7 linked regions of the Homo sapiens genome follow. The protein of the gene in region 1 purifies or fractionates together with the protein of each later gene. This does not show direct contact. Each region holds a gene or a part of one and is shown in the gene's direction. Other genes may lie near its edges. The genes, in order: SLC6A16, POMT1, DNAJC16, TTYH3, PRRC2B, CLPTM1 and CALD1.

Region 1 (4,470 bases):
TTAATTTTTTTCAGCAATGTTTTGTAGTTTTCTTTGTACATGTCTTTCACCTTCTTGGTTAATTCTTTTTTTTTTTTTTTTTGAGATGGAGTTTCACTCTTGTTGCCCAGGTTGGAGTGCAATGGTGCAATCTCGGCTCACTGCAACCTCTGCCTCCCAGGTTCAAGTGATTCTCCTGCCTCAGCCTCCTGAGTAGCTGGGATTACAGGCATGTGCCACCATGCCTGGGTAACTTGGTAATGGAAACGGGTTTTCTCCATGTTCGTCAGGCTGGTCTCGAACTCCTGACCTCAGGTGATCTGCCCACTTTGGCCTCCCAAAGTGCTGGGATTACAGGCTTGAGCCACCGTGCCCAGCCAAGTTAATTCTTAAGTATTTTATTCTTTCTGATGCTATTACAAATGGAATTGTTTTCATAATTTTCTTTTCAGATTGTTCATTGTTAGTGTATAAAAATGCAACTGAGTTTTGATTGTTGACTTTGTATCCTGCTACTTTGCTGAATTCATTTATTAGCTCAAAAATTTTTTTGGTGAAAATTTTAGGATTTTCTACGTATAAGATCATATAATCTTTCTAGTTTGGTTTCCTTTTATTTATTTATATTTTTGCCTAATTTCTCTGGCTAGGACTTCCAGTACTATGTTGAATAAAAGTGGCAAAATTAGACATTCTACGCTTGTTTCTAATCTTAGAGGAAAAGCTTACAGTCTTTTATCATTAAGTATGACATTTGCTGTGAGTTTTTCGTATATGGCTATTATGTTGGGATATTTTCCTTTTTTTTTTTTTGCTGAGACATGGTGTCACTTTGTGACCCAGGCTGGAGTGTAGTGGTGTCATCATGGCTCACTGTAGCGTTGACCTCCTGGGCTGAAGTGATTCTCCCATCTCAGCCTCATGAGTAGCTAGGACTACAGAAGTACATCAACACACCCAGGTAATTAAAAATTTTGTTTGTTTGTTTGTTTGTTTGTTTTTGAGATGGAGTCTTGCTCTGTCACCCAGGCTGGAGTGCAGTGGTATGATCTTGGCTCACTGCAACCTCTGCCTCCCAGGTTCAAGCGATTCTCCAGCCTTAGCCTCCCAAGTAGCTGGGACTACAGGTGCACACCACCACATCTGACTAATTTTTGTATTTTTAGTAGAGATCAGGTTTCACCATGTTAGCCAGGCTGGTCTTGAACTCCTGACCTCAGGTGATCCACCCGCCTTGGCCTCCCAAAGTGCTGGGATTACAGATGTGAGCCACTGCACCTGGCCCCAGGCTGGTCTTGAACTCCTGGGTTCAAGTGGTCATCAGGCCTCCCAAAGTGTTGGGATTACAGGCATGAGTCACCATGCCCAGCCGTATTTTCCTTTAACTCCTAGATTGTTGAGTTTTTTTTTTTTTTTTTATCATGAAAGGGTATTGAGTTTTGTCAAATGTTTTTTCTGCATCAGTTGAGAGAATCATTATTTTTCTTTCATTTTGTTAATGTGGTATATTATATTGATTGATTTTTGTATGCAGAACCATCCTTGCATTCCAGGAATAAATCCCACTTGGTCATGGTATATAATCCTTTTAATATGCTGCTGAATTAGGTTTGGTAGTATTTTTTTTGAGGATTTTTGCATCAAAGTTCATAATGAATATAGGTCTGTAGTGTTCTTTTCTTATAATGTCTTTGTATGGCTCTGGTATTAGGGCAATGTTGGCCTTATAGGATGAATGAGGAAGTGTTCCCTCCTCTCCAATTTTTTGGAAAAGTTTGAGAAGGATTGATATTAATTCATTAAAGGTTTAGTAGAATTCACCCATGAAGCCATCAGGTCCAGAGCTTTTCTTTGTTGAGAGATTTTTGATTACCAATTCAATCTCCTTACTAGTTATAGATCTATTCAGATTTTCTGTTTGTGATTTAGTCTTAGTAGATTTGTATTTCTAGGAATTTGTCCATTTAATCTAGGTTATCCAGTTTATTGGTGTACAGTTGTTCATAAGTTCATAGTACTCTCTTATAATCCTTCTATTTCTGTAGAATTGGTAATAATGTCCCCATTTTCATTTCTGGTTTTAATCATTTGAGTCTTCTCTTTTTTTCTTAGTACATCTAGTTAAAGGTTTGTCAATTTTGTTGATATTTTTAAAGAAACAACTTTTGGCTTCTCTATTGTTTTTCTATTCTCTATTCATTTCTGCTTTAATTTTTATTATTTTCTTCTGCTAGCTTTGGGTTTAGTTTGCTTTTCTAGTTTCTTAAGTTTTAGAGTTAGGTTATTGATTCAAGATCTGGTTTTTTTTTGTTTGTTTGTTTGTTTGTTTTTAGAGGGAGTCTTGCTCTGTTGCCCAGGCTGGAGTGCAGTGGTGTGATCTCGGCTCACTGCAACCTCCGCCTCCTAGGTTCAAGCGATTCTCCTGCCTCAGCCTCCTGAGTAGCTGGGATTACAGGCGCCCACCACCATGCCTAGCTAATTTTTGTATTTTAATAGAGATGGGGTTTCACTATGTAGGTCAAGCTGGTCTTGAACTCCTGACCTCAAATGATCCACCCACCTCAGCCTCCCAAAGTGCTGGGATTACAGGCGTGAGCCACTGCATCCGGCCTCTTTTTTGTTTTTTAATGTAACCATTGATAGTTATAAATTTCCCCCTTGGCATTGCTTTTGTTGCCTCCCATAAATTTTAGTATGTGTGTTTTCGTTTTCATTTATCTGTAAGTATTTTCTAACTCCCCTTGTAGTTTATTCTTTGATCCATTGGTTGTTTAAGAGTGTGTTGTTTAATTTCTACAAATTTGTAAAATTTTCAATTTTACTTTTGTGATTCATTTCTAACTTCATCCTATTGTGGCTGGAGAAGATATTTTGTATGATATTTATCATTCTAATTCTATTGAGAAAAAAAGGAAATTTGTGGCCTACAAATTTGTGGTCTCTCCTGGAAAATGTCCCATGTGCACTTGAGAAGAATGTGTATTCTGCTGCTGTTGGCTAGAGTGTTCTGAATACATCTGTTAGATCTGGTTGGTTTATTGTGTTAAGTCCTCTATTTCCTTGCTTATCTTCTGTCTGCTGCTTCTGTCCATTGTTCGTAGTGGGGTATTAAAGTCTCCAGTTATTATTGTAGAACTGTCCTTTTATCCTTTCAATTATGTGAGTCTTTTCTTGATATATATATGTATATGTATATATCGTATAGGTATATGTATATACATATACACATATACACATATATGTATAAGTATATGTATATACATATACACATATACACATATGTATATGTATATGTATTTATATGTATATACAAATATATATATATACACACACACATATATGAAGGAATTAGGGAGGAGTAAAGAAGAGTACTTGGTCAACATACAGCAGGTTCATCTCATTGTACAAATGTAAGTTTCTCAAGCTTCAGTTCTATGGGCATCTGGCTTGTTGGAAAATTGGCCTGGTTTCATTTTCCCATCCTCCCTTTATTTTGGACCTCCAGTTACACATTTTAGGCCATTTGATATTGTCTCACAGTCACTAATGCTCTGGTAATTGTTTTCAGTCTTTTTTTTTTCTTTGTGCTTCATTTTGGATTGTTTCTATTGCTATATCTTTAAGTTCACTGATTTATTAAAATCTGCCAGTAATCTTCAGTGAAATTTTCATTTCAGGTGTTGTATCATCTCTAGAAGTTCTATTTGATGTTTAAAATATATCATGGCTAGGCATGGAGGCTCATGCCTGTAATCCCAGCACTTTGGGAGGCCATGGTAGCTGGATCACATGAGATCAGGAGTTCGAGACCAGCCTGGCCAACATGGCAAAACCCTGTCTCTACTAAAAAAAAAAAAAAAAAAAAAAAATAGCCAGTTGTGGTGGTGCACACCTGTAATTCCAGCTACTTGGGAGGCTGAGGAAGGAGAATTGCTTGAAACTTGGAGGCAGAGGCTGCAGTGAGCTGAGATCAGTGTGGGCAACAGAGTGAGACTCTGTCTCAAAAGAGAAAATATCTATCTGTCTGTCTAGCTAGCTAGCTATCTAGCTATCTTATATTCCTCATTCTGTTCATGTTTTCCTTTTAAGTCCTTGACCATATTAAGCATATTTGTAACAGCTATTTTAGTGTTATGGTGTGTTAATTCCATTAGTCTATCATTTCTGTTTTTGTTGTCTGATTATGGGTCACTTTTCCTGCTTTTTTGCATGTCTAGTAATTTTTGACTAGATGGTTGACATTATGAATTTTTTGTTGTTCAGTGCTAGGTTTGTCTGTATTATCTTAAGGAATGTTGGCCTTTGTTGTGACAGGCAGTTAAGTTACTTGAAGATCAGTTTTGGCTGTTTAAGGGTTGCTTTTAAGAATTTTTTTTTTTCAGGTCTAAAGTAGTCCTACTACTAGAACTAGAGCTAGTTTATGCCACTTTAAATGTTCCAAGTATTCAGTAAAGTCTCTCCACACTGGCTGATGGAAACTTGAGTAATTCT
Region 2 (4,470 bases), on another chromosome or scaffold:
AGCGGTATATCTGTAAAAGATGAGGATTTTTTTTTTTTTTTTGGAGACATAGTTTTACTCTGTCGCCCAGGCTGTAGTGCAATGGTGCGATCGTGATTCTCCTACTTCAGCCTCCCGAGTACCTGGGATTACAGGCACCTGCCACCACGCCTGGCTCATTTTTGTATTTTTAGTAGAGAAGGGGTTTCACCATGTTGGCCAAGCTGATCTTGAACTCCTGACCTTGTGATCCACCTACCTTGGCCTCCCAAAGTGCTGGGATTACAGGCGTGAGCCACCGTGCCTGGCTGAGGATTCTTAAAAACAAAAATCACATAACCACAGTTGCATTATCATGCCTGAGAAATTGACAGCAGTTTCTTGGTTATCTTCACCTCTCCCTGATTGAAAACATGTTATTGCAGTTGATTCCCACGTTTTCCTTTCATACTTGCAGCCGTTTCATTGGGTCATCGCTAGCCACAGACATGTGCTGCTGGTGGGGGCGGGGGTGGGGGGGTTGGGTAGGTGGGTAAGCAGGATTAGCCTTGCGTCCCAGGAGGTCTTTCAGCAGGTTGGCTCATAGTATCCACCTAAATCAAACACAAGGGAGAGACAGAATCTGTATGGGCAGGCATGCTGAGTGCCAGCTGTGCTTGGTGAATTCCCCATGTCTCTGTGGGTGGGTGATGCTGTATGCATCTTAATATTTGGGGATGGGAAACAATTGGGGCAAAAGATCCAGCCTTTGCTGATCACTCACTCAAAGTCATTTGGAAACACATACACATTTATCCTCACAGTTTTTGTTTACAGTTAAGATTCTAATTGAATATAATATGGGTTGTTGTTTTTTTTTCTAGTTTTGACGAAGTATATTATGGGCAGTACATCTCTTTTTACATGAAACAAATCTTCTTCTTGGATGACAGTGGGCCGCCATTTGGCCACATGGTGCTGGCCTTGGGAGGTAGGAGTCATCAGGAGAGTAGCCCCTACCCTTCAGGACCTCAAATACATTTAAAACTTATCAGTGCATTTCTTACAGGCAGAAACCAGGTCTTATTATTGATGCATCTTGTTTATTGCTTGCCACAGTACTCTAGAAATATTTGCTGAATGGGATAGTTACTGATTAATCTTCTGTTTCAGGTTATTTAGGAGGATTCGATGGCAATTTTTTGTGGAACAGAATTGGAGCAGGTAAAAGATAATTTTCATTTCCCTTTTAATGTGCGCAGGTTAGAATGAAGAGATTGTGACTTTTGTAAGGATTAACAACTGTGGCTTTTTTTTTCCTTTCATACCTAGTCCCACAGAAACTGTGCCTTATTAATCTGAGTCCAGAAAATAATAAATTGGTTGGATACAAATGAAAGACTTCTGGAAAGTCTGGTTAAAATCTTACTGTTCAGTTGCAGTCATTATTTCAGCCCTTGTCGTTGGTACACGTATCACAGAGCGTCTGATTGTGATGATCGGTTGTACATGTGAATTTTGTCCATTGCCACAATGTTTTTGAAAATAGGGAGGGTAGGCCGGGCGCGCTGGCTCACGCCTGTAATCCTGGCACTTTGGGAGGCTGAGACGGGTGGATCATGAGGTCAGGAGATCGAGACCATTATGGCTAACATGGTGAAACCCCGTCTCTACTAAAAATACAAAAATTAGCCGGGCGTGGTGGCGGGCGCCTGTAGTCCCAGCAACTCGGGAGGCTGAGGCAGGAGAAGGGCGTGAACCCGGGAGGCGGAGCTTGCAGTGAGATGAGATGGCGCCACTGCACTCCGGCCTGGGGGACAGAGCAAGACTCCGTCTCAGAGAAAAAAAAAAAAAGAAAAAAGAAAACAGGGAGGGTAAATATGTATAAGTAAGGCGGTAAATTTTAGAATCCTTAGTCCTGTCTATGCTTCATGAGATCGGGTTCCATGACTATGCAAAGCTAATTTCAAAGCCTTCACCCATAGTTTATGCACTCTGCTGCTGATGGGGTCCCCAGTTTTGTAAACGTGCATTTTAGAGTCTGTGAACATGACGGCGCTATGTGAAAGCATAGCTGCAGTACACAGAGATGGTGTGTGCACAGTGTAGTCAGCTCTGCAGTGTGGTTGCTTTTCCAGAATACAGTAGCAACGTGCCTGTGTGGTCCCTGCGCCTGCTGCCAGCACTCGCGGGGGCCTTGTCGGTCCCCATGGCCTACCAGATAGTGTTGGAGCTCCACTTTTCTCATTGTGCCGCCATGGGAGCTGCTCTGTTGATGCTTATCGGTAAGACCTGCGCCCCTGCCTGCTCTTGCTGTCATGCAGGGAAGAACTGACCCTTTGGCCCGGAAGATCACATGGGCTTGGTGGGCGAGCTGCACCAGAAAGTGCATCTGGTTCATCCAAATTTGACGCTGCAAGTCACCCGCTCCCAGGCTGACCCCGTGGTTATGGGATTGCTGAATTGTGGGATCAGACTCTTATCAGCAGTCGGGGTATGGCAGTAGAAAACTGCCCAGATGCTGCTGCAAAGTCCATGCACACGTGGGCACCTCCATCTCCAACCAATCTTGTGACCAAATGATAACTTCCCCTTGTTCCACCACCTCCCAGGCCTTGGCCAATTGAGATGGACTCGTGAGTCAGTGGATCCTCTTCAGAGAGGGTCTTCCAGCTCACGTTTATGAACAGATGAAATTAAAGCAGATGAAAAGTTAGATTAGGCTGGGCGCAGTGGCTCACACCTATAATCCCAGCACTTTGGAAGGCTGAGGCGGGCAGATCACGAGGTCAGGAGTTTGAGACCAGCCTGGCCAACATGGTGAAACCCTGTCTAAAAATAACGAAAAATACAAAAAATTAGCTGGGTGTGGTGGCAGGTGCCTGTAATCCCAGCTACTTGGGAGGCTGAGGCAGGAGAATTGCTTGAACCTGGGAGGTGGAGGTGGCAGTGAGCCAAGACTGCGCCACTGCACTCCAGCCTGGGCAACAGAGCAAGACTCCATCTCAAAAAAAATAAATAAGCCGGGCACGGTGGCTCACACCTGTAATCCCAGCACTTTGGGAGGCTGAGGCGGGTGGATCACAAGGTCAAGAGATCGAGACCATCCGGGCCAACATGGTGAAACCCCATCTCTACTAAAAATACAAAAATTAGCTGGGCATGGTGGCACCCACCTTTTGTCCCAGCTACTCAGGAGGCTGAGGCAGGAGAATCGCTTGAACCCGGGAGGCGGAGGTTGCAGTGAGCCGAGATTGTACCACTGCACTCCAGCCTGGTGACAGAACAAGACTCTGTCTCAAAAAAATAAATAAATAAAATTAGCCAGGTGTGGTGGCATGCGCCTATAGTCCCAGCTACTCAGGAGCCTGAGGCAGGAGGATCCCTTGAGCCCTGGTGGTCAAAGCTGCAGTGAGCCATGATGGTGCCACTGCACTCCAGCCTGGGCGACAGAGCAAGACCCTGACTCAAAGAAAAGAAAGAGACAGTAGAAAATCAAAAGAGATGTGTATTGGGTGATGACTGTATGAGGCCTTGTGTCTATAGAATGTTTTAACATTCACAACAGCCCCACACAGTTGTATCGCTTCTGAAGTAATGCCTTTTTTCATGAGTGTTTTTCATCCTCATACGTTTTCCCTTGCTACCTTAAAATTGACATGTGTTTCCTCTTTGAAACAGAGAATGCTCTCATCACTCAGTCAAGGCTAATGCTTTTGGAATCAGTGTTAATATTTTTCAATCTATTGGCCGTGTTGTCCTACCTGAAGTTCTTCAACTGCCAAAAGCACAGGTATGGAAAATGGAGTGTCTTCCTAGTTAACGAGAACAGAGATTCTGGGTGGTTTGTTGATCTGAGATGGTCCAGTACCTTTTTTTGTTTCGTTTTGTGAGACAGTACCTTTTCATTTTGAGGAGTTGCTTGCTAAATATCTTTTTTTTTGAGACGGAGTCCCTGTCACCCAGGCTGGAGTGTAATGGCGCAATCTCGGCTCACTGCAACCTCCGCTTCCCAGGTTCAAGCAATTCTCCAGCCTCAGTCTCCCGAGTAGCTGAGATTACAGGCACACAGCACCATGTCTGGCTAATTTTAGTATTTTTAGTGGAGACGGGGTTTCACCATATTGGCCAGGCTGGTCTCAAACTCCTGACCTCAGGTGATCTACCCGTCTTGGCCTCCCAAAGTGTGGGGATTACAGGTGTGAGCCTCTGCGCCTAGTGCTAGATATCTTTTGGTCCTCTAATATTTTGGGGGTTGGCCCTTGGCTTGTGACTTCATAAATACATCTTCATTTTTCTATAATTTAAACTAACAGGACAACATTTTCTGGGCAAAAAGAAAAATTCTGCTGGGATGGATACTTTGGGAGATGGGAATTCTTTCTTACTGCCCCTGTGGCTCAGCATGGCCAGCCGACCCAGAAAGATTTCTCTGAAGAATGTGGAGCTTCACTAGCCTTTTGGAAATGTGTCTGAACTATTTCTGTCTCCATCTGCTTTGTTTTTATTCCA
Region 3 (4,470 bases), on another chromosome or scaffold:
GCTTTTTCAAAGAACCAGTTTTGTCTTTGTTAATTCTTCTTCTTATATTAATATATTCATTTCTTGTTTCATTAATTTCTATTTTTATCTGTATTATTTCCTTTCTACTTTTATATTTTTGCTGTTTTTGACTTGACAGATGTTTATTTCATTAACTTCTTTTCTATTATGTTAATTGTAAAATTCCCCTTCAAGTACTACTTTATATGTATCTCAGAGTTCTTATAAATAGTATTTTTCATCAGTCATTAAAGTTCAAAATATTTTCTAATATCTGATAGGCGTTCTTGTTTTGGTTTTTTTTTTTTCTTTTTTAGTCAGTCTTGCTCTGTCACCCAGGCTGGAGTGTAGTGATGTCATCATGGCTCACTGCAGCCTTGGCCTCCTATGCTCAAGTGATCCTCACCCTTCAACCTCCCAAGTAGCTGGGACTACAGGCACATGCCACCATGCCCAGCTAACAACTTTTTTTTTCCTTTTTTTTCTTTTATGAGACAGGGTTTCACTCCCGTTGCCCAGGCTGGTATGCTCTCCCAGCCTCAAGCAGTCCTCCTGCCTCAGCCTCCTGAGTAGCTGGGACTAAGGCCACGCCTGGCTAATTTTTGTACTTTTAGTAGAGACAGGGTTTCACTATGTTGCACAGGCTGGTCTTGAACTCCTGACCTCAAGTGATCCACCTGCCTTGACTTCCCAAAGTGCTGGGATTACAGGCATGAGCCACCATACCCAGCCCTTTTTTTTTTTTTTTTTTTTTTTTCTTGAGACAGGGTCTCAGTCTGTCACACAGGCTAGAGTCCAGTGGTGTGATCCTAGCTCACTGCAGTCTCTTAAGTCTTGGGCTCAAGCAGTCCTCCCACCTCCACCTCCCAGGTAGCTGGGATTGCAGGCATGCACCACCATCATGCCTGGCTAATGTTTTTTTATTTTTAGTAGAGACAAGATCTCATTATGTTGCCCAGGCTGGTCTCGATCTTCTAAGCTCAAGCAATCCTCCTGCTTCGGCCTCCCAAAGTTCGGGGATTATAGGAGTGAGCCACTGTGCCTGGCCTTTTGTTTGTTTGTTTTTAATTTTTTGTAGAGATGGGATCTCTCCATGTTGCACAGGCTGGTCTCTAACTCTTGGGTTCAAGGGATCCTCTTGCCTTGGCCTCCCAAAGCATTTGGGTTAGAGGAATGAGCCTCCATACCTGGCCGTGTTTCTTAATTTCCAAACATAAAGGGAAATGTTTACATTTCTGGTTTGCATTTTAAATGGAATTCTAGGTTAATTACCTTGTGGTCAGAATACCTGCTGTCAATGATTTCAATCCTTTGAAATGTGTGAAAGTTAGCAATAAAATGGTCACACGGTTTTGTAACCTGCCTTTTATACTTTGCAACATTGTTGCTTTGGGATTTATTTTTAATTGCCCAGTTCGCTACAAATCCTGAATGGAAATAATTTTGCCTAAAATTCAAAATGATTGACTTTTCGTTTTGGGTTTTTGTTTTGTTTTGTGTTTGGTTTTGTTTTGTTTTTGAGATGGAGTCTCGCTCTGTCGCCCAGGCTAAAGTGCAGTGGCGTGATCTCGGCTCACTGCAACCTCCGTCTCCCAGGTTCAACTGATTCTCTTGCCTCAGCCTTCCAAGTAGCTGGGACTACAGACACACGTCACCATGCCTGGCTAATTTCTGTATTTTTAGCAGAGACGGGGTTTCACTATGTTGGCCAGGCTGGTCTCAAACTCCTGACCTCGTGATCTACCCACCTCAGCCTCCCAAAGTTCTAGGATTTCAGATGTGAGCCACCACGTCCGGCCATGACTGACTTTTTTAATTTGTCAGCATAAAACAGTGAATAAAAATTCTCCAGTGGAAAGTGTACTTGATTTTCCCTTTGACCCGAAATAGCTGCATCATTGCTTTCAGCCCTGCATTGCTGAAATAGATCACCACATGTTTATTCGCTCAAACAGGTCTGTCTTGTTTGGTTATATTACTTTAGCCAAGGTCAGCTACGTTTTTATTAAGCTGGTAAGTAAAGAAAGCCCATCTATTTGCATTGAGAACACTGCATAAAATCTAGCTGATTCTTGGTTTTTCTCTAGGCCCGAGGTATGAAGAAGCAAATCATTGACGACTTCATCACCCGAAACAAATATCTATTGGCAGCCAGGCTCACCAGCCAGAAGTTGTTCCATGAACTCTGCCCTGTGAAACGGTCGCATCGACAGAGGAAGTAAGGACTTAAGGCTTTGCCTCTGCTTGTTATTACAATAGAAGGATCATGATTCATTTTACTATAGGGTGACTAGACATCTGCCCTGTAACATTGAGAACTTATTCTTCATTTAACAAATACTGGGCCGGGCATGGTGGCTCATGCCTGTAATCCCAGCACTTTGGGAGGCCGAGGAGGGCGGATCATCTGAGGTCCGGAGTTCAAGACCAGCCTGACCAACATGGAGAAACCCCATCTCTACTAAAAATACAAAATTAGCCGGGCATGGTGGCTTATGCCTGTAATCCCAGCTACTAGGGAGGCTGAGGCAGGAGAATCACTTGAACCTGGGAGGCAGAGGTTGCGGTGAGCCGAGATCATGCCATTGCACTCCAGCCTGGGCAACAAGAGTGAAACTCTGTCTCAAAAAAAAAAAAAAAAAAAACACTGATTAGTGACTGTGATGGTAATCATACTAATATGATGTATTAGTCCAGGGCACTTTAGCACCAAATTGTCAGATGTGCCAGCCTGTCCTAGTGGTCAGAGAAGATTTCCCTAAGATGTAACATTTCAGCTGAGACCTGAAGGATGAGCACAGTTTAGCCAGGCGTCTGGGATAGACTGGGTCACTTTACAGAAGCACAGAATATGGAAGAGTGACTGTCCCTACTAAAGCATTCCACACAGGGTGAGTCTTTGGAGGTCTTGGGAAGGAGCAAGGATAACAATTAAACAGTAGGGAAGTACAGAGTATTGAGGAAATGGATTGGTGGGAATCGGGAAGGCTAAGTTACATGTATTCAATAAAGTAGGAAGAGTTATTATACAAAGTATCTAAAAAGTCTAGAAATTCAGGGAATGTATTCATTACACCTTCTCAGGTGAATGAATCAGTAGCTTTAAATTTAGGGCTGTTTCATCTGTAAAAGGTATCTGGATATGGAAGGAAAACATATCAATCATGTAACTTGAAAATATAAAACATAATTTCCCTGTGTGTCTAGGCTTTTCAGATTCCTTTATAGTCTTAAGAGCGAAGAAAAAAATGACTTAAATATAAAAAAAGAATATCCTGGACTGTAAGGATTGTTGTTTACACAGCCTTCAAAAAATATCCCAAATCCACACACTTCTCACTTTTTTTAACCACTGCCACCCTGGAACAAGCCACCATCGTCTCCCAGCGAGACCCCCCTGGCAGCCTTCTAACTAGTCTCTCTGCTCCATTCCACTCTTGTACCCTCCAGGCAGATGTCCACACGTCAGCCAATAATGTTTGAAAATGCAAATCAGATCCAGTCACTCCCCATCCTGGGGTCTTTGCACTTGTAGTCTCTCTACCTGGGATGCTCTGACCCCATTTCCTGTCATAACAATGTCACCTTTTCAGTTGGCACTTCCCTGACCAACCTGTCTGATGGAGCCTGGCTTCTACCCACTCTGGCCTCTCTCTGTCCCCTTTTCATCTTTTTTTTTTTTTTTAATATATAGCACTTGTTGATACCTGTCATAATATATCTGTTTTCTGTCTTCCCCACTGGAATATAAGCTCCATGAGGGCAATAATATTGTCTATATTACCTGACATATACTAAGTGCTCAGTAAATATTTTTGGGAGAATGAATAGCTAAACTTTCCATTGGAACCTTGCAAAGGAAGCCGTTCAGAATGAGGCTCAGTGGCCTCTGGCCTGAGAGAGATTTGACCAGCCCTCCCTATACTGGAAGAACTAGGACAAATAGTTTCTAAAAGGCCCTGCCGGCCAGGAACAGTGGCTCACGCCTATAATCCCAGCACTTTGGGGGGCTGAGGCAGGCGGATCACTTGAGGTCAGGAGTTTGAGACCAGCCTGGCCAACATAGTGAAAACCCGTCTCTACTAAAAATACAAAAACTAGTTGGGTGAGGTGGTGCACGCCTATAATCCCAGCTACTTGGGAGGCTGAGGCAGGAGAATGGTTTGAACTCAGGAGGCGGAGTTACAGTGAGCCGAGATCACACCACTACACTCTCCAGCCTGGGCGACAGAGCAAGACTCCATCTCAAAAAATAAAATGAAAGGCCCTGCTGCATCAGAGATTCAGTGACCAACCCCTTAAATTCCTGGCAGGCACGATGGCTCATGCCAGTAATCCCAACACTTTGGGAGCCTGAGGTAGGAGGATTGTCTGAGGCCAGGAGTTCAAGACCAGCCTGGGCAATATAAACAAAACTATATATATATAGTTTTCATATATATAAAATTTCATATATATAAAATTTTAAAA
Region 4 (4,470 bases), on another chromosome or scaffold:
GGCGTTTCTCTGCAGTAGTGCCAATGAGGGCAGCGCAGGTGTGCCTGGTGGCCACCCCACAACACTGAGGGCCCCAGCTGCTGACACCCCCCAGGGCACCCCCAAGTTAGCCTCTAGGTGGTCCCTGGCCCCATGATGAGGCGCAGCCCTGTATCAGCTCCCCATCCCTCCCCCGGCACAGGAAGTGTGTGGAGGTTCTGGAGGGCTGAGCCGGGGGCAGGGCTATGCTGAATCCAGGGACCTGGGGTTGCAGGGCCTGTGTGCTTTCTCTGTAGCTTCTATGAAGCCCAGTTTCCCTGTGGATGAAATGGGGTGAGAGCACTCGGCCAGGCAGATCGAATGCAGTGCCAGGAGAAGGGACAGCTCTGGGGCCACGTTACCCTCCCTCCCCGCAGCGGGTGCTGAGGAAATGTCACTGTTGCATCAAATTAGCCACTTCCTGTGGGGGTCGCCTGGCCTCGGGACAGGGGAGCTCTGGTGTCTGTTCTGTGGTCTGTCTTTTGTGTTCAGAGACCTGGGGAGAGCCACACTGGAAGGCCGTGCTTGGAGCCAGACAGGGCTGTGTGTCCGATGGGGCGCCTGTATGCAGCCTGTAGCAGTGTGGGGCCAGCCCCACCATCTCATCCAGCGTGGGGGCACGCCATGGACGGTGCCCACCCCTGAGTGCAGCTTCTCGGTGCACAGACCCCAGACAGGATCAGACTCCTGATGGGGCCTCTTCCATGTTCACCCCTCAGAAACACTTTCATGGTCAGCAAGAGGGGGTTCAGTCCCCCACAGGCTCCCAATTTCCCTACCAGACCTGAAAACCTCAGGACTACAGCTGGGGTGGGGGATCCTGCCAGGACTCAGGTAGGAGAGTTCTGGGCCTGAGACGGGGACGGGCTCTGGGGTCCTGGGGCTGTCTCGGGCTGGGGGTGAGGACAGTAGCTGATGCCGGCAGCCCCCTCCCCAGGGCTTCGCTTCTTCGGGGGAGCAGCAGCACTTTTTTTTTTTTTAGACAGTGTCTCGCTCTTGTCGCCCAGGCTGGAGTGCAGTGGTGCAATCTCGGCTCACTGCAACCTCCGCCACCCGGGTTCAAGTGATCCTCCTGCCTCAGCCTCCTGAGTAGCTGGGATTACAGGCACCCGCCACCAGGCCTGGCTAATTTTTGTACTTTTAGTAGAGATGGGGTTTCGCCACGTTGGCCAGGCTGGTCTCAAACTCCTGACCTCAGGTGATCCGCCCGCCTCGGCCTCCCAAAGTGCTGGGATTACAGGCGTGAGCCACCCTGCCCTGCTCAGCAGCACTTCTTTCTACAGAAGATAAACCAGGCTCGGAGAGGTGGAGGGACCTCCCTAGTGGGGCTGTGGCTGCAAAGATGGTGGCTCACCAGCAGCGTCCTCGTTTGTCACCCACATTCTCTGGCTACCTCCATCCAGCGCCTCTCCTTGGGGCCTGGTGGGGCAGACGTCCTGAGCACCTGCCCTGGACTCTGGGGACCCGGTGGGGAGGGGACATGTGCCCTTGCTGGAGCCACAGAAGCCTGGAGTCGGTTCACCCGGCCCCTCCTAGTGGCTATGGAGTCTTCATGCTGTGCAGCCTTGAGGATGGCGAGACCGGGGTCCCAGGTGTGGGGTCCAGGCCTGGGTGACCCCAGGTGCATCACTGAGGTGGTGGGAGACTCCATGCCTCACCTACAAGTCGGGGATGGGGCCCACCTCCCAGGGCTGGGGGCAGGATTAAATGGGAGTCTGCGCCAGGTCCCCTGCTGGGGCGGGGCGTGGGACTCTGAGCTGGGGGTCCACCCCTCCAGCGCCGCTTCCTGCCTGCCCTCAGGCCCTGCTGCTCCTGGGGGCCGCCGCCCTGGCCTGCCTCGCCCTGGACCTCCTCTTCCTGCTCTTCTACTCCTTCTGGCTGTGCTGCCGGCGGCGCAAGAGCGAGGAGCACCTGGACGCCGACTGCTGCTGCACGGCCTGGTGTGTCATCATCGCCACGCTGGTGTGCAGGTGAGCGCGGTGGGGCGGGGACGGAGGGCGGGGCCAGAGGGGGCGGCCCGAGGGGGCGGGGCTGGAGTGGGGTGTGTGTGGGTGGGCGGGGCTACATCTCACGGGCCCGCCCTCTCCAGCGCCGGCATCGCAGTGGGATTCTACGGCAACGGGGAGACCAGTGATGGCATCCATAGGGCCACCTACTCGCTCCGCCACGCCAACCGCACGGTGGCCGGGGTCCAGGACCGCGTGAGTGGCCGCGGAGTTGGGGCCAGGAGCACTCTTGCTGCTCCGGAGCCCCACGTCTGCGCGAGGACGGGCGGGGCAGCCGGGACTGGGGCTGTGCAGGAGGGGCCCAGACTCTGGGGCGAGGCGGGCGCGCTCCCAGCCTCACGCCCGCGGGTCCGGCGCAGGTGTGGGACACGGCGGTGGGGCTGAACCACACGGCGGAGCCCAGCCTGCAGACCCTGGAGCGGCAGCTGGCCGGGCGGCCCGAGCCCCTGCGAGCCGTACAGAGGCTGCAGGGCCTGCTGGAGACGCTGCTGGGCTACACGGCCGCCATCCCCTTTTGGAGGAACACGGCGGTGTCGCTGGAGGTGCTGGCGGAGCAGGTGGATCTCTACGACTGGTACAGGTGCGGCCAGGCCCTCTTCCCTGCCCGCCCCACGTGGGAAAGCATCACCCTCCTTGGGCCAATTTTTGCTCTCAGCACCTAGTACATGAGGCCTGATGGGCAGGGTGTGGCCCAGGGCCACTGGAGGTCACAGGCAGTGGCTGGAGTTCCCCTAATGGGAGCCTTTCTCAAGAACTGACACCAGTCCCCATGACCCAGACGCTCTGAATGCCCTCTGGGGTGCCAGGCTGCTGGCCTCAGCTCCCCCTCAAGGGCCCCTGGCGCCCCACTCCCAGGCCCCGGGTCCCTGTGCCCTGGCGCACTCCCAGGTTTGCCTGCAGGTGGCTGGGCTACCTGGGCCTGCTGCTGCTGGACGTCATCATCTGCCTCCTGGTGCTGGTTGGCCTCATCCGCAGCTCCAAGGGCATCCTGGTGGGGTGAGTCTGGGGGTGTCGGCCCCCCGTGGGCCCAAAGCGGAGGGGCAGGGCAAGGCACCATGTTACCCCTTCCCCCACCTCATCTGCAGATCCTAGCCACAAGCTCTGCGGTGGGGGCTGAGCGGGACCCCCCTGCACTGGGCCTGCTCTGAGATGCCCCTTCTGTGCCTGTGGCCTGTGCCCCTGTGGCCAGCATCCCAGCACACTTGCCCCCAGCCCTTGATTTCCTGCAAGAGTCTGCACGTGGGGCACTTGTAGCCCAGGACCTGAAGCAACCTGCCCAGGTCTCCGAGTGCCTGGGGCCACCCAGAGACCAGGCTGGGGCTCCTTCCTCCACCCCTTCCATCCTTGGCCCTGGGGCAGCCTGGGTTCCAGCCCCAGCTCCGGCTCACTAGGAGGGTGACCTTGGGCAGGTGGCTTATTGTTGCTGGGCCTTGGTCTCCTCGTTTGGAAGGCAGAGAGAGCGGCAGCTCCTCTGTGGGAGGTAAGGTGTTGTCACTGCCCTTCACCACGCAGCTGCACAGCCATGGCTGGTGCCTCCCTGGGCCAGGCCTGGGAGAGATGGGAGAACACACAGCCTCCCCCCACGTGGCACTCACAGGCCACAGAGGAGCAGAATGAGGGAAACGTGGCATGGGCCAGAGGTGATAGCACCCTGGAGAGGAAAAGCCGGGGTGGTGTGAAGGCCTGCAGTAGGGTGGTGGGGGGGGGTGCAGCTTCACGCTGTGCCCAAGGAGACCTGAGCGAGGAGGGATTGAGCAGGGGCCCAAGGGAGTAAGGGACGCCTGGACAGACAGGAAGGATGACAGTGTGCAGTGGGTTGTGGGGTCCTCAGTGGGGTGTGCAGGCCTGCAGTGGGGTGTGGGGCCCGCAGTGGGGTGTGGGGCCCGCAGTGGGGTGTGGGGCCCGCAGTGGGGTGTGGGGCCTGCACTGGGGTGTGTTTTGGGGATCTGAACTGGGATATGGGGGACTCGTGGTGGGGGCACCTGCAGTGGGGTATGCACAGGAGGCCTGTGTATCTGGATCAAAGGGAGCCAGATGTGGGTGAGGTGAGGCCTCAGATGAGGGAGAGGCCAGTGCCGTAGCAAGAGCTCTGAGTCCCCAGTTGCTGAGCGAGGGTTCAGCACAGGAGGGCTTGATCTAGCTGACGTTATCAGGCCCCTTGGGCTGCTACGTGGGCGGCGGGATGCGGGGACCCACGTGAAAGTGGACACTGTTGCCTGTTCAGGAGAGGGACCTGGGGGACAGGAGGGGCGGGGCCCCAAGAGCCACGTGGCCCTCCAGTCCTGCTTCCAGCTCAGATCTCTGAGCCCCACCCCACCTAGGAGAGGGATCCATCTGGGCCCTGGGCTGTGGGCAGCTCTGGCTGAGGCCAGGCCACAGGAAGAGCCCCAGCCCATGTGTGGGCTGACCCCTGATGTGCACTGGGACCTGCCTTCTGGCCTGCAGC
Region 5 (3,774 bases), on another chromosome or scaffold:
CATGCCCATCTGTACAGGGCCTCAGCCTCCCTCTCTTGCGGTGCGTCTCCTTGAGCTCTGTCCTGGAGGTGCCAGGGTGGTCAGTGACAGCCACCCCCTCACCCTTCTGCGTTCTGGGCTGTCTTAGGTCTGTGGTTGTTTTCCATCCAAGAGATCCACGGACCGTCCCGAGTGAGCGCCTCTGGCCGCAGGCCCTTCCTTCCTTGTGCCTCCTCCATGTGCTAGGCTTTGACTCCATTTCTGTGGTGACACGTTGTGTATTCTCAACCCCTGCCTTTGGTTTTTTCAGGCCTAGCTCTGCTAGCCCCAGTGGGAAGCCCTCTGGATCAGCAGTTAACATGGGCTCTGTGCAGGGACACTACGTGCAACAGGTAGAAGATGGCTTTCCAGACCCTTCAGCCCTGGACACTTAGGCCCGTCTCCAAGCGCCAAAAGAGAAGGGACTGTCCAACCTATCTGAGCGCCCCCTGTCTAAAGACAGCCATGCCCTAGCGGTTAGAGCACAGAACCGGGAGCTGGGCCGCCCGCGTCCCTCCTGGCGAAGGCATTTCTCCTCTTGACGGGCGTCTGGATCCTTCCTTGTCCTGCAGAGAAGGGAGGATGCTGATTCCTCTGAGGAGGTGGTGCTGGAAGGTGGACCAGCCCTGGCAGGTCGGGGCTGAGGCGCCCTGGGAGACTCGGTTAGGTTTGGGGGTCGGCTTTAGGAGCCGGGGTGCGCGCGCTGGTTCTAGTCAGTGGTGTGTCTCATCTTTGTCTTGGCTGGGTGGGAGCACAGGTGAAATTAAGTTTTCCCATTTTATAATGAAAAGGACATCGCAGTGTCTTTTCCTGCACGCACTATTCTCTTCTCTATTCTCTAAAACGTGCTGGGGCTCAGAGCTTAAGCCCCTCAGACGTGGGTTTTTAATCAGTCACTGTGCCTGGCTGGTAGAGATGGGAAGTGATTGCTCTCATTGGTTCCCCTAGGGGTCATGAAAGTTGTGTGGAATGAGCTTCTAAAGCTTTCTTCCAGAGTTCAGACCTGGTGGGGGGCAGATGCGCTGGCTGCTCTGTGACTTCCCCACCCCACTCCCCGTGTAGAGCCACAGACCAGGGGAGCCCTGACTAGGAATGGGGCCCCAGGGAAAGGTTACAGAGTGGGAATGGTGGGGGGGTTGGCTGAATCGCGGCCAGAGATCTGTGGGGGCCAAGTCTGCCTAGGGCCCCAGCAGACAGTCGGGGGCTCCGAGACGTGCAGGGGGCACTTGGATCTACTTGAAGGGGCCTTTTTTGCCTGTGGGGCAGGAGGTGCACTGATTTGAAAAGGTTCTTCCAGTTGGCCTTGGGACCAGAACTGCTTCCGCCCTGGGATGTGCCATCGCGGAATTCTTTGTGGAGGACCCGGTGTCTTCCTGCCTCTCCGAATCACTGCACTCAGGGCTTATGGGGAGGGAGCAGAGACGGCACTCGCGCCACTTTCCTTACTAGGAGGGGGGTTTCTAAGTCTGGTCCTTCAACCAAGGGACTGACAACTTAGGGGAGCTTTCCCTGCAACTCAGGAGCAGGAAGGGAGTGGTGGGAACTATGTATCCAAACACGTTTCAGCGTCAGGGTCACTTTGTTTTTCCCATTCATCTGTCCAAAGGCAAAACAACGAGTGGATGAGAAACCCAGCCTGGGAGCCGTGAAGCTGCAGGAGGCCCCCTCGGCTGCCTCCCAGATGAAGCGAACCGGAGCGATCAAGCCTCGGGCTGTCAAAGTGGAGGAGAGTAAGGCCTGACAGTGCCTGGCTGCCACCTCGCCTCTCCCTACTGAGGACGGTGCCGCCATGCGGCCTCGACACAGCCGACACTCGGGAGCCTCACCAGATCCACCGTCCAAATGCGTGGCCCAGACTGAGAGACCTCCCTCCTCTCCACTCCCGAAAGCTCCGTTGTCAACCAGCTTGCACCCGTGGATATATGGCATTGACCCGCTTGCTTTGATACGAAACAAAAAAGCAGACGACTCCTTCATCCCATCTGCTCCTACCGTGACTGTGGAGTGACGCCTCCTGTGCAGTGCAGATTTGCCCTCCCTGCCTCCTCCCTGTCCTGCCGCGCAGCCAGGGCGCCTTCTCAGCAGTGCTTCCGGCCCAGCCGCCCATCCCTAGGCACAGTGATTTGGCAGCAGGGTCATTTTACTTTGAGGCTTTTTGTTTTAAAATGTAGCCAAGGTTTTTACAAAGGGGAAAGGAAAAGAAAACAAAAACGCAAGCTCCATGTGTATAGCTGAACTTTTATATGTTTCTTGCCAGCCCCTCCGCTCCCTTCCATCTCTAGCCTCTGTCCTGTTTAGTTTGATACGTCACTGCAGTACCTTAAGAGGTGACTCTTAAGAATGCATCCCCTCCTGATTCCTCAGCTGGTTCACCCTTGAGGTTATTTGCAAAAAGAAAAGGAGGTTCTTGAGGGCACCGATTGCGAGCATTCTGGTGCCTGGCTCCCCGCCTGGGAAGCGATGGGGTGCTCAGAGCAGCAGGCAGGTTGGGGGAGGGGGGGGGTCATAGTTGGGTTCCAGCTCCTGGCTTGATGAGCCCAGGGCGCTTACAGGCAGCCCATGAAGTTGATGACAGTTTTAGCATGAGAATCACACAGGGTCCCTGTCCTGGGCTCCTCTAAAGCCAGTGGATGTGCTGGGCACCAGAGACAAATCATGGAGATGGCTGCTGGTGGCTCCCAGGTTGGCCCAGATGGGGTGAGCTGACATACCACAGGCCCATCCCAGGCCCCGTGGGCTCTGCTTCTGGGGCTCCATACCCTGCCCTGCAGGGGTGCTGTGTTTTTCACACATTTCTTTCCCTGAAGCCTTCTGTAACCTGTCATTTTCCTTCCTTCCTCTTCCGGAGCCTGCTGCTTTCTCTGGACCTGTCTCCACCTCCCACACAGCTCATCGTGAACACCACTTGGTGATGGAGGGAGTGGACCCGTGTGTGGTCCCCAAGTGAGGCCACTGGGAGTTTGTCCTTTTCCTCCTTTGCTTCACTCCCAGCAGCAGACCCAGGTTGTCAGGACAGGAGGGCCTGAGCTAAGCAGTAGGCATCAGTCTCGTTTGTCTTCAGACGGCGGGGGCAGGTCCAGGGTGAGGCTGGGTGGAGGGCTGACCAAGGTCCAAAGGGCCTGCGCAGCCTCCGGGAGGGCAGCTTCTCCAGCCAGAGGCTTGTGTGAGCCATCGTGTGCTGGGCTTGTTTTTAAGTAAGAAACAAGGAAATCACTCCAGATTCTGTCATTCCAAGGAAAGGGAAGGGGACAGTTCAGGTTTCTCAGCTGTTCTTAGGGGTCACTGAGCGTCTACCTCCTCCTCCAGAGGAGGCTGGCTCAGAACACCTAGAGGAGGGGGCCGGGGATGCACCCCCCACCAGAGGCTGCCTTCAGCGTCTCACGGGTGCAGGACAGCGCTCAGGCTTGGGCTCTAAGCTCTGTGTCTAGTGTAGAACATGGGGAAGGAGCATCTTAGGAACTGCTGAAGTAACTTCTTACTGCTCTCACAATTCTAAGGAAGCGGGAGAACGGCCTCCTACCAACAGCGCCCACCCCAGAGCTGCCTGGGAAAGGGCAGTTTTACTGAAAGGTGCTTTACTGTTCACCTGCATCTTTCAGCAGCTCCCCTCCTGCCCTCACCTGGTCTTTTCCCTCTTTATCCCAAGCCTTTATGCTTGAGTCCCTTCCCCAGGGGCTGCCCACCCGACAGTTCCAGGCATTCCCTACCTGAGCTTCTTGTCTGCTTTTCCTTCTCCCACTGCAAGCGGCTGCTTGT
Region 6 (4,470 bases), 4.3 Mb from region 1:
GAGTTTGAGACCAGCCTGGCCAACATAATGAAACCCCAGCTATACTAAAAATACAAAAATTAGGCGGGCATGGTGGCTAACGCTTGTAATTCCGTCTACTCGGGAGGCTGAGGCAGGAGAATCACTTGAACCCAGAAGGCAGAGGTTGCAGTGAGCTGAAATCGTGCCACTGCACTCTAGTCTGGGCGACAGAGCGAGACTATGTCAAAAAAAAAAAAAAGGGTCTAGCGTGTGTTTTATATCATAGCACTTCTTGGTTTGGACCAGCCATATTTGCAGTGCCCAGTAGCTGCATGTGGCCAGCAACCCTGATACTGGATGGTGCAGCTCTAGAAGATTTTCCTCCAAGAAAGGGGGGCTTTTTCCTCCCCACAGGAGCCAGGTCCATCTGGTCTGGATGCCTCCAAGCTGCAGAATGTGTTCTTTGCCTGAGCCAAAGCCTCTCTCCCCTGTGCCTCCCCCTCCACCAGCCAGCGCTGCCCTCTGGGGCTCTCCCTTCCCTGGACAGTCTCTGTCAGGTGTGGACACGATTGGGGCATGTCCCCCTGGAATTTTCTCCAAGTCAACCCTTGAGTGTTGGTTTCTCCCCCTGGACACAGGAGGAAGATCCCCAATGATTTAATAATCATAGAAATGATGAGGATTGGCCAGGTGGCTCAAGCCTGTAGTCCCAGCAATTTGAGAGGCCGAGGCAGGTGGATCACTTGAGGTTAGAATTTGAGACCAGCCTGGCCAACATGGTTAAACTCCGTCTCTACTAAAAATACAAAAATTGCTGGTCATGGTGGTGGATGCCTGTAATCCCGGCTACTCGGGAGGCTGAGGCAGGAGAATTGCTTGAACCTAGGAGGCAGAGGTTACAGTGAGCTGAAGTCATGCCACTGCTCTCTAGCCTGGGCAACAGAGTGAGACTCCATCTCAAAAAAAAAAAAAAAATGAGGATGACGTTTCTGCTAATAAGCAGTAGGCCCTGGGCCAAGAAGTGGTGAGGCTTTTCTTCCTTCTTTAGGGAAGTGACATCACTCACCAGCATCCCTTAGCTTGTAGGATTCAGAGCCAAGATTGCCCCCAGAGCCCCCGCTGTTGGCCAGGTCTCTTTCCCCTTTCCCTGTCTCTCCCTGGCCCCAGGGGACAGGATAGAGACTTGAGGGAGGGCAGACTGAGTTTTCCTTCATAGCATAAGGAAGAGCTGAAAAGTCCCCGGGCTCAGTGGCTCACGCCTGTCATCCCAGCACTTTGGGAGACTGAGGTGGGCAGATCACGAGGCCAGGAGATTGAGACCAGCCTGGGCAACATGGTGACACCCTGTCTCTACTAAAAATACAAAATTAGCCGGGCGTGGTGGTACACGCCTGTAGTCCCAGCTACCCAGGAGGCTGAGGTGGGAGAATAGCTGGAACCTGGGAGTCGGAGGTTGCAGTGAGCCAAGATCACACCACTGCACTGCAGCTTGGATGACAGAGCGAGACTCTGTCTCAAAAAAAAAAAAAAAAAAAAAAAAAAAAGAAAAGAAAAAAGAAAAATACTTAGCTTCTTTTCGGGCCAGGTGCGGCAGCTCACACCTGTAATCCCAGCACTTTGGGAGGCCAAGGTGGGCAGATCACGAGATCAGGAGATTGAGACAATCCTGGCTAACACAGTGAAACCCTGTCTTTACTAAAAATACAAAAAATTAGCAGAGCCTGGTGGCACACGCCTGTAATCCCAGCTACTTGAGAGGCTGAGGCAGGAGAATTGCTTGAACCCAGGAGGCGGAGGTTGCAGTGAGCCGAGATTGTGCCACTGCACTCCAGCCTGGGTGACAGAGCGAGACTCTGTCTCCAGAAAAAAAACAGAAACGTCCCCAGGCCAGGGCAGAGGTTGGGAGATGGAGCGTGGGCACGCACAAGCCCCTTCCTCCCCGGCAGCATTTGGGACAACATGGCAGGGGGCCTGTGGCCAACTGGGCCTCTGCGAGAGGAAGTGAGGCCAACTCCTGGCTGGGGATTCACAGCCTCAAAGTGTTTCTCATCTTGGTTTCTCATGTTGGTGGCTTCAGGCCTTTTTTGGAACCGTCTGCTGCCTCTTTATAGTCATGTATTCAACTGGTCATCACCGAGCCTGTGCAGGCGCCCCATGTGTATTCAAACAGGCCCTGCCCCTACCCGCATTTCCGCACAGAGTTTGCAGACTGGTTGCAGGGACAGACAGCAGGCAGGTAAACCACTGGCTAAGTGGTTTTGGATAGTGGTGAAATGTTGTGAAGGAAACAAGCTGGCAGGAGAATGACTGCATAGGCTCATTCAGTGGGGTGGCCAGGGAAGCCCTGTGGAAGAAGGACATTCTGCCAGGGACTTGAATGCCACGGAGGAGCCAGGCCACGAAGATTGTGTCAGGGCATGGGTTCCTGGGACACGGGGCAGCACGCCTGAAGGCCCCGGGTTGGCATGTTTGAGAAGTGGAAGGTGGTGAGGGTTGAGAGGTCACCGGGGCTACGGTGAGTGTCTGGGGTTCCAAAGCTGCGGGATGCCATGATCAGTCACTTGTTTTTATTTATTTGTTTGTTTGTTTTCTTTTTCTTTTTGAAACGGAGTTTCGCTCTTGTTGCCCAGGCTGGAGTGCAACAGTGCGATCTCAGCTTCCTGTAACCTCCACCTCCCTAGTTCAAGCGATTCTCCTGCCTCAGCCTTCCGAGTAGCTGGGATTACAGGCACCCGCCACCACATCCGGCTGATTTTTGTATTTTTATTAGAGACGGGGGGTTTCACCATGCTGGCCAGGCTGGTCTCTAACTCCTGACCTCAGGGGATCTGCCCGCCCCAGCCTCCCAAAGTGCTGGGATTACAGTGCCCTACTGAGCTGGGGTTTCTGCCTGGGGCATTTGGTGATGGTGGCGTCCCCATGATCATGAGGAACTGGGATTCGTTGAGATTTGGGGAGGCAGTTCTGGCATTCCAGGTCACATTGATCTCAGCAGGTGAGTGCAAGGTGGATGCCAGGAGACCGTGAGCCGTTGCTGGTGGGCAGGGGTCCGGGCTCTGGAGGCTGCAGGTGCCAGCAGGTCTCACGTCCCCTCCTTTCCCACCTCCCAACCACAGTGATCAACAAATACAAGCGCAGACGATTTCAGAAAACCAAGAACCTGCTGACAGGAGAGACAGAAGCGGACCCAGAAATGATCAAGGTAAATGGGCAGGGTTGTCAGGGCCTATAGGGACCAAGCCAGGCCATTCACAGCTCATCCCAGACCACTGGGGCTGTCATCTGTCACCACCACTGAACCACCATGCCGGCTCGGTCATGCCACCTCCCCTCCCTGAGCACTGGGCTCCTCCTCTGGGAAATGGGGTCAGGAGGCAGCTGTCTCTCAGGGAGTGAGGAGGATCCCAGACAAGGTTACCTGAGCCTCTTGCCAGCCTGGGAGGGGTCTACATCACAGTCCCATTGTCACATGAGGACACTTGCTCAGTCTCAGCCGGAAGTGGCAGGCCAGGGACTCTCACCCACACAGCCAGGCCCCAGAGCCCAAGCTCAGCCTGGCTCCAAGCACACACACGAGAATATGGCTTTAGTAGGAACTGCAGGATTCATAGTTGCTGTCACTCCCAGTGGGCTGGGGAGCCGGGCAGTTAATCTGTGGTTAACCTGCAGTGGGCACTAAGAGACTTCCTCTCTCTGCGGGTGGTCCTGTGTTGGGGGGGTGGTCCCTGCTCATGGAGCTGAGGCCACCGTGCAAGAGTGTGTGGAGCCTGCTGTCATGAGGCTGGGCTTCGCAGCCTGGCCTAGGATGCCAGCCCTGCCTCTACCTCTACCTCGGTTTTCTACATGTGGGGTGGGAGGATCCTGTCGGTGGCCGGAAGGGTCCTGGGTGGCGGAATCTCTAAGCCTAGGGAGGAGAGCCTTCTGCCAGCAGTTGCTGTGGTGGCTGATATTCTGCTGCCAGGGTTGTCAGGGGAGATGGCTCATGCCTGTTTTCCCAGCATTTTGGGAGGCCGAAGCAGAAGGATCACTTGAGCCCGGAAGTTCAAGATCAGCCCAGGCAGCATAGTGAGACCCCATCTCTTCCAAAAAAGAGAAAAAAGAAAGAAAGAAAAGAAGCTGTCCATGGTGGCTCACGCCTCTAATCCCAGCACTTTGGGAGGCCGAGGTGGGAGGATCGTGCTTGAGCCCAGAATTCGAGACCAGCTTGGGCAGCATAGTGAGACCCCATCTCAGAAAAAAAAGAAAGCAAAGATTAAGATTTTCTCGGGAACCCTGGGGAGGAAGTGTACAGAGAGTGATAGTCCCCGAGCACTTCCACCTGCCTCTGAGGTCCTTCCCCCCATGTTGCCTCAGAGGGCTGAGGACTATGGGCCTGTGGAGGTGATCTCCCATTGGCACCCCAACATCACCATCAACATCGTGGACGACCACACGCCGTGGGTGAAGGGCAGTGTGCCCCCTCCCCTGGATCAATGTAAGCTCCCCAGCCCTGCCAGCTGCCTGCAGAGC
Region 7 (4,470 bases), on another chromosome or scaffold:
TCACTTAGCATAGTATCTTCAAGGTTTATCCATGTTGTAACAGGTAACAAGATCTCCTTCCTTTTTTTTTTTTTTCTCTTTTTTTCTTACAGACAGAGTCTCGCTTTGTTGCCCAGGCTGGAGTGCAGTGGCACAATCTCGGCTCACTGCAACCCCTGCCTCCTGGGCTCAAGCAATTCTCCTGCCTCAGCCTCCAGAGTAGCTGGGACCACAGGCACACGCCGCCACGCCCGGCTAATTTTTTTTTTTTTGTATTTTAGTAGAGACAGGGTTTCACTGTGTTGCCCAGGCTGTCTTAAACTCCTGAGCTCAGGCAATCCGCCCGCCTCGGCCTCCCAAAGTGCTAGGATTACAGGCGTGAGCCACTGCACCCGGCCTCTCCTTCCTTTTTAAGGCTGAATAATATTCCATGGTATGGCTAGACCACCTTTTATTTATCCATTCCTGCTATGATGGACACTTGGGTTGCGTCCATCTCTTGGTCCTTGTAAATAATGCTGCTATGAACACGGGTATACAAATGTCTCTTCAAGACCTTGCTTTCCATTCTTTTAGAAGTGTATCAGAAGTGGGATTGCTGGATCACGTGGTAGTTCTCTTGTTGATTTTTTGAGGAACCTCCATACTGTTTCCATAGCAGCTGCACAACTTTACAATCCCATTTTACAGTGCATATTTGTCCCATTTTACAGCTGAGGAAACGAAGCACAAGTGGAAGAGCAGAGGCTCCTGGACTCTGTGATTCCGGGCAGACCCCTTCCCCAGCCTACCCCCTGGGCTAATGAGAGGCAGTGGGTATTTAGTCGGGGATGCAGAAGCCGCAGACCGACCTCCCCTTCCTCCAGGGAGACTACAGGCAAAAGCATGTAAACCCCTTTCCATTGCCCCCCAACCACAGCCGCCCTGGAGGGAGGGCCAGCGTGGACACCAAGGAGGCTGAGGGCGCCCCCCAGGTGGAAGCCGGCAAAAGGCTGGAGGAGCTTCGTCGTCGTCGCGGGGAGACCGAGAGCGAAGAGTTCGAGAAGCTCAAACAGAAGCAGCAGGAGGCGGCTTTGGAGCTGGAGGAACTCAAGAAAAAGAGGGAGGAGAGAAGGAAGGTCCTGGAGGAGGAAGAGCAGAGGAGGAAGCAGGAGGAAGCCGATCGAAAACTCAGAGAGGAGGTAAGGCGGGCGCTAGCCCACTGAGAACGTTGCCCGGGAAAATTCCCTAGTGCCGTGCGGCTGTTCTTTTGAGCATGGGCTCTCAAAAATATTTTTTTAAGAATAATAAACTTACCATGTGCTAGGTACTGTTTTATAACTTGTAGATGTATTAATTTGTCCACTGCTTCTAAGAACTCGCTGACCTAGGTACTAATCCCCATTTTACAGATGAGAAAACTGAGGCACAGAGAGGTTTTGTTTTTGTTTTTGTTTTTGTTTGTAACTTTCCCAAGGTCTCCCTTGAGTCTGCCTGACATGCAGGAGGAGCCCCATCATTAAAACCCTTTACTGCCTCTCAAAAAGGAAAAGTTAGAAAGCTGAAAAGGATGAAAGGTCTGCAAATTAGTTACCAGAATGAAGTTATGGTTTTCTAATAGTTGGAGAGTTTTTATAGAGAAGATTTTTTTAAATCTTTTTTTTTTTTTAATGAGCAAGTAAGTACATTAGAATATAAAGAGGCAGGGACAGTATCTGCGTTGTTCATTACTGTATACCCAGGACCCCATACCGTGCCTGACATGCAGGAAGAGCCCCATCATTATAAACAGATGGATTTGTTTCATCTTTTAAGACAGAGCTAAAAACAGCAGATAGAGTTACAAGGAGGAACATTTTGGCTCAGCATATGAAATAATGTTTAACCAACTACAACTTACAGTACTACAGTTTACAAAGTGCATTCTTTCATTTCATCCTGAGGTACATCGTTCTCATTTTATGGGCAAAGAAACCAGGAATCAAATAGTTTGAGTGACTTATTTGAAGATTCTTGACTAATAAATGGTAGAATCAGTAAGGAGACCCCGCTTTTCCAACTCAGAGCCCAGAGCTTTTGAGATAGCGATCTCCCATCATTCAAAATATGAAGAAAAAAAAAGACTTTCAATGGCATTTTGACAAGGATCCTATGCAAAATTTTCCTGAACTGTATGGAAAATTTGGATACATTATTTTGAGGTCTCTTTTAACTCCAACTTTCAATGAGCCAATGACCTTTGGTTGGGAAGTATGGGAAGTAATCAGGATGATAGAGTTTGGGGGTTAAACACACCCCAGGCTTTTTTTTTTTTATTGTTTTTTTAGACATAGTCTTGCTCTGTCACCCAGGCTGGAGTGCAGGAATGCAGTGGTGCAATCTCGGAACACACCCAGTCTTCTATCCTAACTCTGTCACTAACAAGCTGGGGCCTTGGGAAAACTGGACTACTCTGTGTCTTCTTTTCCTTATCTGTGAAATAATATCTACTTTGCAGGATTCTTCCAATAATTTAATAGATCATTGTGCTCCCAGTGCCTGGCACATTCTAGGCACTCAAAAATTAGTAGGTATCATTATTGCCATCATTGTTATTATGATTATTATTCAGAGGAGGAGAGTATCAGGAAAGGCTGAAGAGAAATCACGAAGTCTTAGAACTGGATTGGACCTAGGAGATTATTTGGGCTAAACTACCAAACACAGGATCCTTCTGTGACATCCTCTGACAGATGAACATCTAGTCTCTGCTTGAGAACATGCAGTGATAATGATCTCACAGCTTAAGAACTACCAAAGACTGCATTAAATCTCTCAGAAAATCAAGTTGTGCAACTTGATCAGAGCCCTGATAGAGAAGACAGAGTATTCTAGACTAGGAATGAAGACACAGAGGGGTTAATGAGACAGTCTGTAAACATTTGCAATTGCACTACCATGGTTCAACGTCTAGAGCATTTCAGGTTTGTCAAACCATCTAAAATTATATATTCACTTGAAGCGGGGAGCAACCATAAAATCACCTCTTGTACCATCTGGCAAATATAGTACCACAGATTTAGATAGCTTTTCACATAAGTTATTCATTTGTCTTCACAACTCTCCTAGGATGTAGGTAGAAGGAATATTCATATCCCTTTTACATATACAGAAGTGTGAGGTCATTGTTAATGACCCACAGGATGGTGGTGATTATGTATCATCCTATGGGAAATCATCATAATGAGTGTTAGTCTAAGCCAGGGGTGTCCAATCTTTTGGCTTCCCTGGGTCACATTGGAAGAAGAATTGCCTTGGGCCACACATAAAATACACTAACACTAATGATCGCTGATGAGCCAAAAAAAAAAAAAATCACAAAAAGGTCTCATAATGTTTTAAGAAAGTTTACGAATTTGTGTTAGGCTACATTCAAAGCCATCCTGGGCATGATGTGGCCCCTGGGCCATGGGTTGGACAAGTTTGGTGTAAGCATTTTACATGTGCTATCTCACTGAGCCCTCACGAAAGCCCTAAAAAATGAGTACTATTGTTATCCCTGTTTTACAGATGAAGAAACTGAGCCACAGAGCAGATAAATAACATGGCCAAGGTCAGGCAGTTGGAAAGTAGCAGCACCAGAATGCAAATGCAGGCAGCTCGACTCCAGCTCTCAGGCTAAACCTCTGGTGACCACCTAGAAGGGGAGTGTCCAGCCTGCGGCCTGAGTCTGCTGCCTCTCCAACTGTGCTCTCTCTCCTACAGCACTCTTCCCTTTGGCTGTGAAGCTGGTACTGATGCCTCGTTATTTGTTCTTTCTCTCTTAGGAAGAGAAGAGGAGGCTAAAGGAAGAGATTGAAAGGCGAAGAGCAGAAGCTGCTGAGAAACGCCAGAAGATGCCAGAAGATGGCTTGTCAGATGACAAGAAACCATTCAAGTGTTTCACTCCTAAAGGTTCATCTCTCAAGGTATTTTTTTCCCCAGAAAACTTCTATTAGAATATGATAGAGACTGGATTTTAGCCCCTTGTTTAGTTATTGATTATACAGGGCCTTTGTTCATTTATCTTTTTGCTATCCTTCCAAGTTAATCTGTTCAGGCTGCTATAACAAAATACTTTAGACTGGGGCCAGGCACGGTGGCTCATGCCTGTAATCCCAGCACTTTGGGAGGCAGATGTGGGCAGATCACCTGAGGTCAGGAGTTCGAGACCAGCCTGGCCACCGTGGTGAAACCCCATCTCTACCAAAAATTCAAAAACTAGCCGGACGTGGTGGCACACACCTGTAATAATCTCAGCTACTTGGGAGGCTTAGGCAGGAGAATCACTTGAACCCAGGAGGCAGAGGTTGCAGTGAGCTAAGATAATGCCACTGCACTCTAGCCTGGGCAACAGAGCAAGATTCCATCTCAAAATTTATCACTCACAGTTTTGGAGGCTGGAAAGTCAAAGATCAAGGTGCCAGCAGATGTGGTGTCTAGTGAGGGCCTATTCCTCATAGGTGGCACCTTCTCCCTGTGTCCTTACATGGT

The links.
Region 2: the proteins of SLC6A16 (region 1) and POMT1 purify together in Homo sapiens (affinity purification with mass spectrometry; one large-scale study listed by BioGRID and IntAct). This does not show direct contact.
Region 3: the proteins of SLC6A16 (region 1) and DNAJC16 purify together in Homo sapiens (affinity purification with mass spectrometry; one large-scale study listed by BioGRID and IntAct). This does not show direct contact.
Region 4: the proteins of SLC6A16 (region 1) and TTYH3 purify together in Homo sapiens (affinity purification with mass spectrometry; one large-scale study listed by BioGRID and IntAct). This does not show direct contact.
Region 5: the proteins of SLC6A16 (region 1) and PRRC2B purify together in Homo sapiens (affinity purification with mass spectrometry; one large-scale study listed by BioGRID and IntAct). This does not show direct contact.
Region 6: the proteins of SLC6A16 (region 1) and CLPTM1 purify together in Homo sapiens (affinity purification with mass spectrometry; one large-scale study listed by BioGRID and IntAct). This does not show direct contact.
Region 7: the proteins of SLC6A16 (region 1) and CALD1 purify together in Homo sapiens (affinity purification with mass spectrometry; one large-scale study listed by BioGRID and IntAct). This does not show direct contact.

Annotation. Positions count from the first base shown.
Region 1 is NC_000019.10:49,318,247-49,322,716, reverse strand, and holds part of SLC6A16 (orphan sodium- and chloride-dependent neurotransmitter transporter NTT5), read left to right. Parts: intron 1-4,470.
Region 2 is NC_000009.12:131,505,272-131,509,741, forward strand, and holds part of POMT1 (protein O-mannosyl-transferase 1), read left to right. Parts: intron 1-842; coding exon 843-949; intron 950-1,131; coding exon 1,132-1,182; intron 1,183-2,079; coding exon of another isoform or gene 2,080-2,096; coding exon 2,097-2,243; intron 2,244-3,639; coding exon 3,640-3,751; intron 3,752-4,470. UniProt on the Homo sapiens protein: Transfers mannosyl residues to the hydroxyl group of serine or threonine residues. Coexpression of both POMT1 and POMT2 is necessary for enzyme activity, expression of either POMT1 or POMT2 alone is insufficient.
Region 3 is NC_000001.11:15,557,439-15,561,908, forward strand, and holds part of DNAJC16 (dnaJ homolog subfamily C member 16 isoform 1 precursor), read left to right. Parts: intron 1-2,087; coding exon 2,088-2,218; intron 2,219-4,470. UniProt on the Homo sapiens protein: Plays an important role in regulating the size of autophagosomes during the formation process.
Region 4 is NC_000007.14:2,645,035-2,649,504, forward strand, and holds part of TTYH3 (protein tweety homolog 3), read left to right. Parts: intron 1-1,818; coding exon 1,819-1,988; intron 1,989-2,107; coding exon 2,108-2,219; intron 2,220-2,383; coding exon 2,384-2,604; intron 2,605-2,924; coding exon 2,925-3,020; intron 3,021-4,470. UniProt on the Homo sapiens protein: Calcium-independent, swelling-dependent volume-regulated anion channel (VRAC-swell) which plays a pivotal role in the process of regulatory volume decrease (RVD) in the brain through the efflux of anions like chloride and organic osmolytes like glutamate.
Region 5 is NC_000009.12:131,494,116-131,497,889, forward strand, and holds part of PRRC2B (protein PRRC2B), read left to right. Parts: intron 1-289; coding exon 290-371; intron 372-1,624; coding exon 1,625-1,759; 3' UTR 1,760-3,774.
Region 6 is NC_000019.10:44,982,141-44,986,610, forward strand, and holds part of CLPTM1 (putative lipid scramblase CLPTM1), read left to right. Parts: intron 1-3,077; coding exon 3,078-3,163; intron 3,164-4,314; coding exon 4,315-4,435; intron 4,436-4,470. UniProt on the Homo sapiens protein: Involved in GABAergic but not glutamatergic transmission. Binds and traps GABAA receptors in the endoplasmic reticulum (ER).
Region 7 is NC_000007.14:134,946,610-134,951,079, forward strand, and holds part of CALD1 (caldesmon), read left to right. Parts: intron 1-898; coding exon 899-1,160; intron 1,161-3,764; coding exon 3,765-3,905; intron 3,906-4,470. UniProt on the Homo sapiens protein: Actin- and myosin-binding protein implicated in the regulation of actomyosin interactions in smooth muscle and nonmuscle cells (could act as a bridge between myosin and actin filaments).